Regions from separate parts of the Homo sapiens genome. Here regions 1, 2 and 4 are each reported to be linked to region 3. The links are microRNA targets in miRTarBase. Many come from high-throughput screens and were not tested one by one. Region 3 holds a microRNA gene; each other region holds the end of a gene's coding sequence.
Evidence for each region. Region 3 holds the annotated microRNA hsa-miR-367-5p (ACUGUUGCUAAUAUGCAACUCU, at 1,896-1,917, opposite strand). A microRNA usually pairs through its seed, bases 2 to 8, with sites in the 3' UTR of a target mRNA and lowers its output. Matches are read on the target gene's strand: a 7mer-m8 pairs with bases 2 to 8, a 7mer-A1 pairs with bases 2 to 7 and ends in A, and an 8mer does both.

Region 1: the mRNA of VKORC1L1 is a reported target of hsa-miR-367-5p. Seed matches in the 3' UTR shown: 7mer-A1 at 2,435-2,441, 7mer-m8 at 1,373-1,379 and 7mer-A1 at 435-441.
Region 2: the mRNA of NFX1 is a reported target of hsa-miR-367-5p. The part of its 3' UTR that is shown has no 7-base or 8-base seed match.
Region 4: miRTarBase lists ATP6V0E1 as a target of hsa-miR-367-5p. The part of its 3' UTR that is shown has no 7-base or 8-base seed match.

What each region holds. Positions count from the first base shown.
Region 1 is chr7:65,953,836-65,956,835 of GRCh38, reverse strand. It overlaps VKORC1L1 (vitamin K epoxide reductase complex subunit 1L1), which reads right to left. Exons shown (of 3, transcript NM_173517.6): 3 at 1-2,762. The coding sequence ends at 2,536. Among named protein-coding and RNA genes, the nearest start is that of GUSB, 27 kb to the left of the region's middle.
Region 2 is chr9:33,369,434-33,372,433 of GRCh38, reverse strand. It overlaps NFX1 (nuclear transcription factor, X-box binding 1), which reads right to left. Exons shown (of 24, transcript NM_002504.6): 24 at 1,277-2,528. The coding sequence ends at 2,456. Among named protein-coding and RNA genes, the nearest start is that of AQP7, 32 kb to the left of the region's middle.
Region 3 is chr4:112,646,020-112,649,019 of GRCh38, forward strand. It overlaps MIR367 (microRNA 367), which reads right to left and starts at 1,922; the gene lies at 1,855-1,922. LARP7 (La ribonucleoprotein 7, transcriptional regulator) reads left to right here. Exons shown (of 13, transcript NM_016648.4): 3 at 332-432; 4 at 569-652; 5 at 772-936; 6 at 1,015-1,108; 7 at 1,180-1,530; 8 at 1,671-1,815. It overlaps MIR302CHG (miR-302/367 cluster host gene), which reads right to left. Exons shown (of 3, transcript NR_146092.1): 2 at 2,494-2,580; 3 at 701-949. It overlaps MIR302D (microRNA 302d), which reads right to left and starts at 2,052; the gene lies at 1,985-2,052. It also overlaps MIR302A, MIR302C and MIR302B. RefSeq lists an enhancer at 2,852-3,000.
Region 4 is chr5:173,019,869-173,022,999 of GRCh38, reverse strand. ATP6V0E1 (ATPase H+ transporting V0 subunit e1) reads right to left here. Exons shown (of 4, transcript NM_003945.4): 3 at 2,633-2,762. The coding sequence ends at 2,669. SNORA74B (small nucleolar RNA, H/ACA box 74B) reads right to left here and starts at 2,274; the gene lies at 2,071-2,274. RefSeq lists a silencer at 2,480-2,774.

The DNA of each region.
Region 1 (3,000 bases), not on the chromosome of region 3:
ACACTGGTGGCTAGTAATGCTGCAGTGTTCAAATATTCAGTCTAAAACAGGCAAAACAATCTTCTAATTTTGTAACACTGGTGATTCCCCCCCTCTTCTGGGCAGAATCGGAGGTATAGAAAGGAATCTGAATTCTCCAGGGCAAAAAACACCCAATTAACACCCACCAGGATTCTGTTACTGAGACACTGGCATTACAATGCTGTTATGACAGGCAGTACGTGTTCCTCTCTCAGTGAGAAAAAGGGTATTAATTCGACTGGGCCATAGGAATGTGGCAAAAGTTTTTATACAACTGAAACAGTGGTTTCCCCGAGGCTTAGAAAAGCAAAGGAAAAACTGGAAGGGTCTGGCTGACCATTTTGCCATGTTTTCTCAGGTAAGAGTTGAAGACATTTGCAAGAATGCAACATCAAGACAAGCTTTAACTATACTCTGTTGATTGATACAAAATAGGATGAAAAACCATTGGATATTGGGACACGAGGAACTTGTTTAGCACAACCGATGTCATGTATACCACAGTTTTAACCATTAGGCCATTTCCACTGTAGCTTAGAAAAAAGAACCAGAGGACTGCCTTGGTAGAGCTGGATGCGCTGCTACAAGATGGCCTCACTGTACAGCCCTCAAACGTGAGGACTTCTTTCTCCATAGACACCAGATGGCCAATCAGTACTTTCTAGAGTTCTTTAACTACTTCAGAATGCAAGAACAGTACATACATACTCCAACAGCCATTGAAAGATTCACATTCATGGGAAAACACAAGTCTTGATGAAATCTTGACTTAAGCTCTCTTTTAAGAAACTGGTTGAAACTGGTGAAAAGTTCATTATGATTTGGACTTGATACCTGCCTCGGGCCAGAAGACCTACGTTGCATCAATTCTGAGTCAGTTGGAAGCTACGGAATTGTTGCTGACTCTACACATTTGAGTTTACAGAGCAGAGCCCGTCCCCTCCCTTCAAAGAGAAGGCAAATAAAGCACTCAAGAGATACTGGTCTCATTGACTATTTTCAACATAAAATGATTAATCAGGTTGGAAGCAAAAACATTACTGCTGCTTCTCAACCAGAGGATTAAGTGATCACACAGGACCCTTCTGCAGAGTGCAGGTTTTCTACCTGACGGTGAAGAAAGGAGGGAAGGACACTTCTTCTGCCCAAGGTCAACACACAAAATATTTGGTTTGAGATTTAAGACAGAAGGCACTTTTAACATTCTGATATCAGATGTTAACCATACAAACATCCTGTCACAATTTCATTTGGGTGTACTCAAATCCCCTTACAAAAGTCTTCTTACTGCATGTGTGTCATTATGAGAGCAGTGGCGACATGAGCAGATTTAGCCTTGAGATGTGTCTACCTGTTGCTATTCTCCCGATGAAGCAAACTGGGCAGCATGTCAGCCCTGAAGGTTACAAATCCAGTATTTGACTGCAAAACAATTAAATTAGACATCTGAGTGGTTAGTGCAGAAAGAAACAATTAGCAAGAACACTGGCTCCCACTCCGGAGCGATGGGGCTTGGACTGGTCTTTTCCATCATAATACTCTTTGCTTGACTGGCACCAACGTTAAGGAAAAATATCTGCATGAAAATTCAACTAGTGGAAGAAACTTTACCTAAAAATGCCATGTTTATATTTCCAGCTTTTCTCCAAAGAAAAATACCCATTTTCCCATCCTTAGTGTCTGAAGGCCTTGGACTTGAAGGTCTGGCCACATGACTCATTCTGTAAGGTTAACAACTGGCCCAGTTTTATGACTGAACACAAACTGGACTTGAACGTTCCAATTCAATTTTTTCCTTTCAGAAGAGGGAGATGAAAGGGAACCGACCACCCTATTATTATTTTTTTTGCCCTATTATTTGCTGCAACCACGGCTGCCAGTACTTTTCACAAGATGCTGTGTATAGGCTATTTTCACTATCTCCTCAGTCAACGCTGAGCTGACAGTTCTTCAGTGCTACACTCCAACTAAACTGTACAGTAAGTTCTGCAGAAATGGATCTAATATTTCTACCTTTATTTACAAATATCACAAATGGATTCTAGTTGAATCTACATGTTTAAATCCATCGGCTAAAAACATATTACATATTGTAAACATGGCAATATTTAATACAGTATCTATTCTAGAATATTTTCATGTCATGATCACATTTGTTATACCTGAAATTGAATTTATACACATTAAAGAATTACTAGCAATGGTTGCTCACTTTACAATTGAGGGCAGGGGGCTAGGGCTACATTTTATCATTTCAGAAACACTTCAAAGTAAAGTTAAAGCTTGTCTTTGATTGGCTCGGCGTATCCTTTTTGTATCCATATTTAAAATGAAGACTGACACAGAAAATAGCGAGGGCCCCTTCTAATTTACCGGATTTTTAAAAATCAGTTTGAGATTCTTAGGGAAAGTGTCTGTTGTGAATAATAATAATAATAATAATAATAAAAACCTGCTGCAAAATAAACTGAATGGAAAGGGGCTTGAGACTGTTAGGGTGGAGTCTGTCGGGCGTCAGTCCTGCTTGGGTTGCAGCTGCCGCTTCCAGGCCTCGTTCAAGTAAACTAGTCGTTTGTAGTTGATAATGAGAAGAAGGAAGTTCAGCACGTACGTGACGATGCAGATGATGCAGAACTCCTTCAGCACAAAGTACAGAATGTAGGCCAGGTACAGGGACCCCACGACCGACATGATGGAGGACGTCATGAGGATCAAAGCCGCCACAGCGCTTGCTGTCATGCCTGTAAGAGAAGAGACGCAGGCTCAGTCAGGCCTTGGTGCTGGAGAGAGGCTTTCTGAGTGACAAGGAATAACACTGTGTGACTTGCTGCAGTGTTTGAATACTGATCTTCCTGCCAACTCTGAAAATTGAGAACAGAAATACTGCTCTGTTTTGTTAAAATTATACAGGTTGACTCTGCAGTTGATAATGCCAGGTTTTGGGGTTTTTGAGATGGAGTCTCACTCTACCGCCCAGGC
Region 2 (3,000 bases), not on the chromosome of region 3:
GTTGGGGAAAAAAGTCAAAAGAATATTTTGTGACATAAAAATCATATGAAATTATTTCGGTGTGCACAAATAAAGCATTAGAACAGAGCCTTACTCTTTTCATTTGCATATTGTCTACGGCTGCTTTCACACTACGATGGCAGAGTTGGATAGCTGCAACAGAAACTATAAGTCTCACAGTCTACAATATTTACTATCTGATCTTTTTTCACAAAACATTTGCTGAATCCTGGTCTAGATCCTAAATCTGGCCATGCCACTCTGCTTAGAATTCTTGTCACTCCCTGTGGCTCTCCACGAGCTGACCCCTGTCCACCTGTCCAGCCTCATCACCTGTGCCCCTAGTTGTCTGCCTGCTCTGGACAACCCTTACTCAACCATTCCCCCAGCCCTGTCTCCTGCTGTTTACCTTCTCTCAGCATGGGCCTCTTTCCTCCTCCAAATGGCAGCCTACCATCTCAAGCCTCAGCTCAAATGCTTCCTCCCATTTCACTTTCCCACACGTGTCCTGCTCTGACCCCCAGAGCTAACCCATTTCTACCGCAACTTCACAAAATATTCCTCTTAGGACTCTTCAGCTTTTAATAACCGATTAACAACCTGTTGGTGGCAGACTAGCCAATTCCACTGAGAACATCTGTTCACGTGTGTCCTCCCTGGATTACTAAATGTACGAAACCAGGCTGCTTCCCACAGCCCTGGCACAAGGCTGGCACAGGGTAGGCATGCAAATATTCACCAGAAGAGGCCTGGTTAGCATTCCACACCTTCTACTTGGCTAGTATTATGGAGGAAGATGTGTACATATTTTCTAGATACTAAGTATCATTTTTATGAACTTTGAGGATCAGGTACCTCCACGTGTATTACTCCTTTAATCTTCATAACCCTAATGAGGTCAGTGAAACTTTCATCGCATCAAGCGGCAAATTATGTGGCACAGCTAGAATCTGAAGTCAGGTCTCCTGCCTTTTGCTGATTCTGAGATACTCTCACACGTACTATTCACCCACTGAACCCACTGCTTGAAAGAGGTAACAGATGCTCATGGGCTTCCTGTTGTGTGTGGGGCCACTGACCTGCACTACATGGGTCCAGAGAGAGGTGGTTTTGTTTTGTGTCACTTCCCTCCAGTCACCTGTTCCTGCTGCTGTACCTGATCCCTTTTGAAGCAGACTGGGTAAGGACCAAAGGACAGCCCTGCTACAGGAGGAGGAGGATTGAGGAAAAAAAATGAAAAGAAATAAAAAAATGAAAACACCAAAAGGCAGCCCTATAAAGTTAAATTTTATAATTTAATTAAGTGCTTGTTTTTGTCACTCTACTTCTCAAGTCTCCTGCTACTGCTCTGGGGCTCATGGCTTGCTCTAGGGCAGAAGGAAGTTGCTGGAAGCCTGGCCTCCAGGCTGGAGGGGTGCCAATGCAAGGGTCACACTAATGGAACTATCAATGCACCTGCCTTAAAGGAGCCTGAAGAATGCCTCCAGTGGGCTGCTGGGCATAAGCCCTGGACTGTCCATATACTACTTGGAATATTCAAACAGAGTCCAGAGCTCAGAGGCAGGGAGAGCCAATAGGCTGCTGAAGGCCTAGGGAAAGCAACACAGGACAGTTGTCCATTTGAGACTCTTTCTCTATCAAAGAGGAGTTAGGGATATACTGGTCAGTTCAGAGACCACAGTGTGACCCTGGCAGAAGAACTTGCTCTCTATATTTCCTACCATCATGGGGGACGGCCAAACTGATTGTTACTGAACAGGTTCAGTGATGTGGTATGAGAAGTGCCAGGGACTTAAGGAAATAGAATTCTGTAAAGCAGCCTGACCCCCTTCTAGGTCTAGAACTGATCACATTGAAAATGCCAAAATAAGTTCAGCTAGATATACCTATGAGAGGTTTTGGCAAAAGACTTAGGTATGATGGCTGGGTTTAAGATAACATGTGTGATTCCGGATATGGTATACCAATTCATTATTTGGTATTTCAGACTAAAAAATTCATTTGTGCTCCTAAAGATTTTGATCAGTTTGGGTAAAGCAAGCAATGTCTGTCTGATGTTTCAGGCATTTTCAGGAGGACAAATAACTGGGACAACTGAGGCTATGACTTAGTGGCATAAAGTTGGTTTCAGGCTAAAAGTTTGGTTTGTCCAAATAAAGCCCAATAGTCCCTCAACTCTCAGAGCAATCACAGTGATGGTGTAAAGAGCCTCTTTGAATGCGTGATTGCATACCTAGTGACCATACAATCAGAGATCTGGTCATAATGAAACACTTTATACAGACAGGAATAGACAAGGGATTTCTGACACACTCATGCTTTGGATGTGTCAGTACAAGACAGTATGTGAGACTGTGATTCTGCCAGGCAGAGGGGAACGGGCATGATTTATCTGCTGGCAAATAAGTCTCCACTATACCTAATCATTCTTTTATCTAAGTGCATCATGATCTTCTTAGTCCTGGACGTCAAAATAGTCAATTATTGGCTCCTTGGTTATTTTCTGTAAATTACTGCTCCCAGGATTCCTGAAAAACAAACAAAGAATGATCAGTCTTTTCTTCTTTGGGGGAAACAGATACAGGACTTCAGAAAGTTAAGGATCAGCTGATTTACCATTTGTGAATCTTAAACATTTATTTTATTTTTATTTTAGTCTTACTTTTTTTCCTTCTGCCCTTTGTGAGCAATTTTTTTAACTTTTGTGTTTCCTTCTAGATTTACATATTACATGGGGAATTTTATTCTGTGAGATAACAAATTCTCTATTTACACTTTACAGTTTAGAGGTAACCTTTCACAATCTATTTACAGGATTTCATATATGATGATGATTTTACTCTGCCTTCACAGTTCAATGAATGCTCAGTTAACAGCTTAAGCCAAGCGAGCATCTCACTTGTGAAGTTTTGATAGTGGGACAAACATGAGCTGGTGATTTTGAAATTTGGTAATGGGCACATGGGCATTTATGATAGTAATACTATTCTCTCTACTCTA
Region 3 (3,000 bases):
GTCTCTTTCTCCCAGGCTGGAGTGATCTCAGCTCACTGCAACCTCTGCCTCCTGGGTTCAAGCGATTCTCCTACCTCACTCTCGAGTAGCTGGGATTACAGGCGTGCACCACTACACCCAGCTAATTCTTTGTATTTTTAGTAGAGATGGGGTTTCACTATGTTGGCCAGGCTGGTCTTGAACTCCCCCATCCACCCGCCTTGGCCTCCCAAAGTACTAGGATTACAGGCATGAGCCACCGAGCCTGAGGGCCTGAGGGGCAGGTTAAATTGTACCAAATTGAATTAATCCTGCTGATACACTAACATATTAACTTTTTCATTTTCTTTAGATGTTGATATATCACTACTTGTGTCTTTTAACAAAATGAAAAAATTGACTACTGATGGGAAGTTAATTGCCAGAGCATTGAGAAGTTCAGCTGTTGTAGAGGTAAGAATCAAGAATAACTACTGTTTATATTTATAGTTTATAATTATAAAGAATGTTAACGTAATGATTATTATATGATTATAGCTTACAATTATAAATAATATTAGTTTTATTAATGTAATATACTATTTTAAAGCTTGATTTGGAAGGCACCAGAATCCGGAGGAAAAAACCTCTGGGGGAAAGACCAAAGGATGAGGATGAACGCACAGTGTATGTGGTAAGCTTAAGAACCCGGGTCCCCAGTCAGAAACTGGCACAGAAACAATATAATTAAGTTAAAAATTTATTGACATTCTGATTGTGAAAAACTCTAATATTGCTTTTAATTTATAATAGGAGTTACTTCCCAAAAATGTTAATCACAGCTGGATTGAAAGAGTATTTGGGAAATGTGGCAATGTTGTTTATATAAGTATACCACATTATAAGTCTACTGGAGATCCAAAGGGATTTGCGTTTGTGGAATTTGAAACAAAAGAACAAGCAGCAAAAGCAATTGAGGTAAGTCCAGATCCTAAAAAAAAAAAAAGAAAGAAAAGAAAACAAGTATTAAAATAGTAACTTTTGCAATCATTTCAGTTTCTTAACAACCCACCAGAAGAAGCACCAAGAAAACCTGGCATATTTCCTAAAACAGTGAAAAATAAGCCCATTCCAGCCTTAAGAGTTGTGGGTGAGTATTTTTCAATATTTAAATAGGTGTAGTTGAAGTAAGATGAACTAATAATGATGGCACTTTTACAGAAGAGAAGAAAAAGAAAAAGAAGAAGAAAGGCCGAATGAAAAAGGAAGACAATATCCAAGCCAAAGAAGAAAACATGGACACAAGCAACACCAGCATCAGTAAAATGAAAAGATCCAGACCCACATCTGAGGGCTCTGACATTGAGTCCACTGAACCCCAAAAGCAGTGCTCAAAGAAAAAGAAAAAACGGGACAGAGTTGAAGCATCTAGCTTACCTGAAGTCAGAACAGGGAAGAGGAAGAGAAGCAGCTCTGAAGATGCAGAATCCCTAGCTCCCCGATCAAAAGTAAAGAAAATTATTCAGAAAGACATCATTAAGGAAGCATCAGAAGCTTCCAAGGAAAATAGAGGTAAAACTACAAGGTTTTAATTAGATAAAACTAATTAATTTTAATTAATTAGTTTTTAATTAATTAGGTTTTAATTGGCTTCTGTTTCACCCATTTCACAGCCCCATGTCTTAACGGAGAGCTTTTTTATTTATTTCAAGATATAGAAATCTCTACTGAAGAGGAAAAGGATACTGGAGATCTAAAAGATAGCTCTCTCTTGAAAACAAAAAGGAAACATAAGAAAAAACATAAAGAGAGACATAAAATGGGAGAAGAAGTTATACCATTAAGAGTGCTATCAAAGTAAGTCTGTGGTTTAAATTCTGTCATTGGCTTAACAATCCATCACCATTGCTAAAGTGCAATTCCAATTTATATTCAACAGAGTTGCATATTAGCAACAGTAATGGCCTGTAGCCAAGAACTGCACACAGTGTGGGCGTTAACGCAATTGCTGATTAGGTAGGAACCACCACACTCAAACATGGAAGCACTTATTTTTGTCATGTCACAGCAAGTGCCTCCATGTTAAAGTAGAGGGGGCCCCTTAACAGATGTAAAAATACAAAATAAAGCTTAAATATATGAGCTGCGGTCAATACAATAAAGTTATTTTCTAAAAAAATAATAAAAATGTAAAAGGAAGACTTACCATCACCAAAACATGGAAGCACTTACTTCTTTAGTTTCAAAGCAAGTACATCCACGTTTAAGTGGTGGGGAGCCCAGTCTTGGAAAAAGTTAGAATCCTTTAACCTGTAACAAGCTTAGTAACCTTAAAACACAATAACAAAAAAATTTTGTAACAAAAGGTGTGCTGGCTTGGAGACACCTCCACTGAAACATGGAAGCACTTACTTTTGTTTCACACAGCAGGTACCCCCATGTTAAAGCAAAGGGGATCCCTTCAAATGAGGTTAGCGTGTTCTATTTTGGAGAAGTAAATTGGATTCACTCCTACTAAAACATGGAAGCACTTACTTTTAAAGTCACAGAAAGCACTTCCATGTTAAAGTTGAAGGGAGCCCACCCAACATACAACTTCTTTGGACTTCAGAGTATTTAGAGCTGAGGAGAAAGAAAACAAAATGGCATAACTTTAGAAGAAAAAAATTTTTTTACCTTCCTGAACTAGTTCCCAAAGATTCGTGTTCTCCTCCAGAAGGGTAAAAGGCAGGGACTTCAGCCACTTCTATTTATACTATTCTTAACTCTTGAATTCCTTTTGCCTTTTTATCTCAGAGAATCATTACAAGGGCCTTTTGTTATTTTAATGTATCAGCTCTCAGGGAATGTATGATCCTGGGTGGGTCTGGATCCTTTTTTTTTTTTTTGAAGTATACAGATGTCAATGTTAACAGCTAAAACCATTACCACAAGATATCTTCCTCTTAAAAAAAAAAAAGAAAAAGAAAAAGAAAATCTCCTATCTGCTTGTTTGATGGCATAGATTAGGGTAACAATGAGTGCTCCCACTGAGCCGAGAAA
Region 4 (3,131 bases), not on the chromosome of region 3:
CAGCTGTTAGGGAGGCTAAGACAGGTCGATCTCGGGAGCCCAGGAATTCAAGGCAGCAGTGAGCTATGATCACACCACTGCACTCCAGCCTGGGCCATAGAAAGAGACCCTCTCTCTCTATAAAAAATAAATAAAATTTTAAAAATTAGCCAAAACATGGACCACATAGTAAGACCTTGTCTCTATTCAAAATTTAAAAATTAGCCAGGCACGGTGGTGTGTGCCTGTAGTCCCAGCTACTCAGGAGGCTGAGGCAGGAGGATCACTTGAGCCAGGAGTGTGAGGCTGCAGTAAGCCATGATGGTGCCACTGCATTCCAGCTGGGTGACAGAGACTCTCTTTCAAAAACAAAAAAGTTAGGGTATGGTGGCTCATGACTGTAATTCCAGCTACTTGGGAGGCTGGGGCAGGAGGATTGCTTAATCCCAGGAGGTCAAGACTGCAGTTAGCCGTGATTGTGCAACTGTACTCCAGCCTAGGTGACAAGAATGAGATTCTGTCTCAATTAAAAACAAAAACAAAAACAAAAAACAGCAGCAGCAGCAAATCACCATTTGCCATTTCAACTAAAATGATTAATTCAGGCTATGATCATCAATGGATAAAATCACTTGATAAAAAGGACTTTACAAATGAAGGAACCAGGCTGTCATTACCTGAACCCAGTGATCACATCAGCCTTACTAAACATAGGAGAGCCAGAGCCAGACATCCTGTTTCTCCAGATGGGAGGCAATACACAGTTTACAGTAACACCTAAAGAGCCAAAAAACTTGAACCTAAATCTAGTCAAGGCATTTAAAGCTAACTTCCATTTAACAAAATAATGAAAACAACGAACAGATTAAATAAGAGGTTTCCTGACTCTCGGCCAGTGAATAAATCTTTCCACTATACCACTACTAACCTCTCTGACCCTCAGGACAAATAGAAGCTGCAACCTTAAGACTGATTTTCCTTTTTCTGAGACGGAGTCTTGCTCTGTCGCCCAGGCTGGAGTGCAGTGGCGCGATCTCGCCTCACTGCAAGCTCTGCCTCCTGGGTTCAAGCCATTCTCCTGCCTCAGCCTCCCGAGTAGCTGGGACTACATGCGCCCACCACTGTGCCCAGCTAATTTTTTGTATTTTTAGTAGAGATGGGTTTCACCGTGGTCTCGATCTCGTGACCTCGTGATCCACCTGCCTCAGCCTCCCAAAGTGCTGGGATTACAGGCGTGAGCCACCGCGCACGACCAAAGACTGATTTTCAAAAGGCACTGATATGGCTTGGATTATATGTCCCCTCCAAATCTCATGTTGAAATGTGATCCCCAATGATGGAGGTGGGGCCTGGTGGGAGGTGTTTGGGTCATGGGGGTGGATTCCTCATGAATGGCTTGGTACCCTCCTGATATGGTTTGGCTGTGTCCCCACCCAAATCTCATCTTGAATTGTAGCTTCCATAATTTCCACGTGTTGTGGGAGGGACCTGGTGGGAGATAACTGAATCATGGGGGCAGTTCCCCCATACTGTTCTCATGGTAGTGAATAAGTCTCACGAGATCTGATGGTTTTATAAGGGGAGACCCCTTTTGCTTGGTTCTGATTCTCTCTTGCTGCTACCATGTAAGAACTGCCTTTCATCCTCCGCCATTATTGTGAGGCCTCCCCAGCCACGAGGAACTGTGAGTCCATTAAACCTCTCTTTCTTTATAAATTACCCAGTCTTGGGTATGTCTTTATCAGCAGCGTGAAAATGGGCTAATATACCTCCCCATAGTAACGAGTGAAGTAGTTGTTAGTGCACACAAGAGCTGCTTGTTTAAAGGAGCCTGGCACCTCCTTCTCTCTCTCTTGCTCCCTCTCTGGCCATATGACACGGCTGCCCCCCTTTTGCTTTCTGCCATAAGTAAAAACCTCCTGAGGCCTCACCAGAAGCCAAACAGATACGGGTGTCATGTTTATACAGCCTGCAGAACTGCGAGCCAAATATAAATTACCCAGTCTCATGTATTCCTTTATAGCAACACAAAACAAACGGACGCAGGCACCTTTCTCCATCCAAAGCATTCAAAAACCTTAATTTTGTTTTCTCTGTCTGCTCCCAGACTAGAACTAAGCAGCCAAAGTGAATGCTTAGCACACTCTCGGGGAAGCACAGCTCTGTCTTGCACCAGTGCCAGACGCCACCAGAACAGTGGCGCAGGCAACCGGATGAAGACAAGACATTCCTCTCCCAGCAGTGTAACACCATCACAGGAACGGTTCTGTCCGGATGGCTGACTACTGCTGGAAAGAAACCTGCTCAATTTTAAATCTGCCAGCCACTTTTTAAAGTTGCTGGATCTCACAATGCCAAGTATAAACAGTTACTTTTTTGATCTGCGTCTGAAAGAGTGCATGCAAGCTTAATTTTGTAAATTAAACTGTATTTATTTAAAAAGGCAGGGTGATAGCAGAATCTAAAAAGAATCTTAATGAGATTTAGGTAAGCTAAGGCTTAAGTTCCAATTTTATTTCTGCTCTTCAGATCGTGTTTGCATTCAGCAGCTTGCCCTTGCCACGTGTTAAAATGGCCATAAAATGTGAGAAAAAGTCAAGGCAAACTCTGACTGCCTGACCATACTGATAAGAAAGGTCACAAGCATAGTCACCTCAAAGACTGAGCACTGTAGAGCATGTCTTCTTCCTCAAGGCCAATGATACTTCAGATACCAGATGGTTTCATTTTTCAATTGCGGTCCAAAGAGAGGGTTGAGTTGGGCCAGAATTGCAATCAGCCAACTAAAAGAAGGATGGGAGAGAAACAACGAAGCGGTGAAATCATGTTGGAACATGACCATTTTCAATTAGCATGGAAAAAGTACACTAGCAAAACTTAAATCTACTGCATTCACACCAAACTTTCCATATACATTGTGTTAACAGCAGCATGTCTGATAACAAAATGTTTCCCAGGACGTAGCCTGCCTTCATCTTGAGACATATCACAAAGCAGTGAGGCTTTGTCACAGTAAGTCTCTGACTTTTCTCTCATTACCTGATTATCTTTCCAAGTATCCAAGATTTCCTGAATTCATGATATCTTCGCTTCAAAGCGTTTTCACTTAATCTCAATTTATCATCATCACAACTTCCAACCTCAGGGAAAAT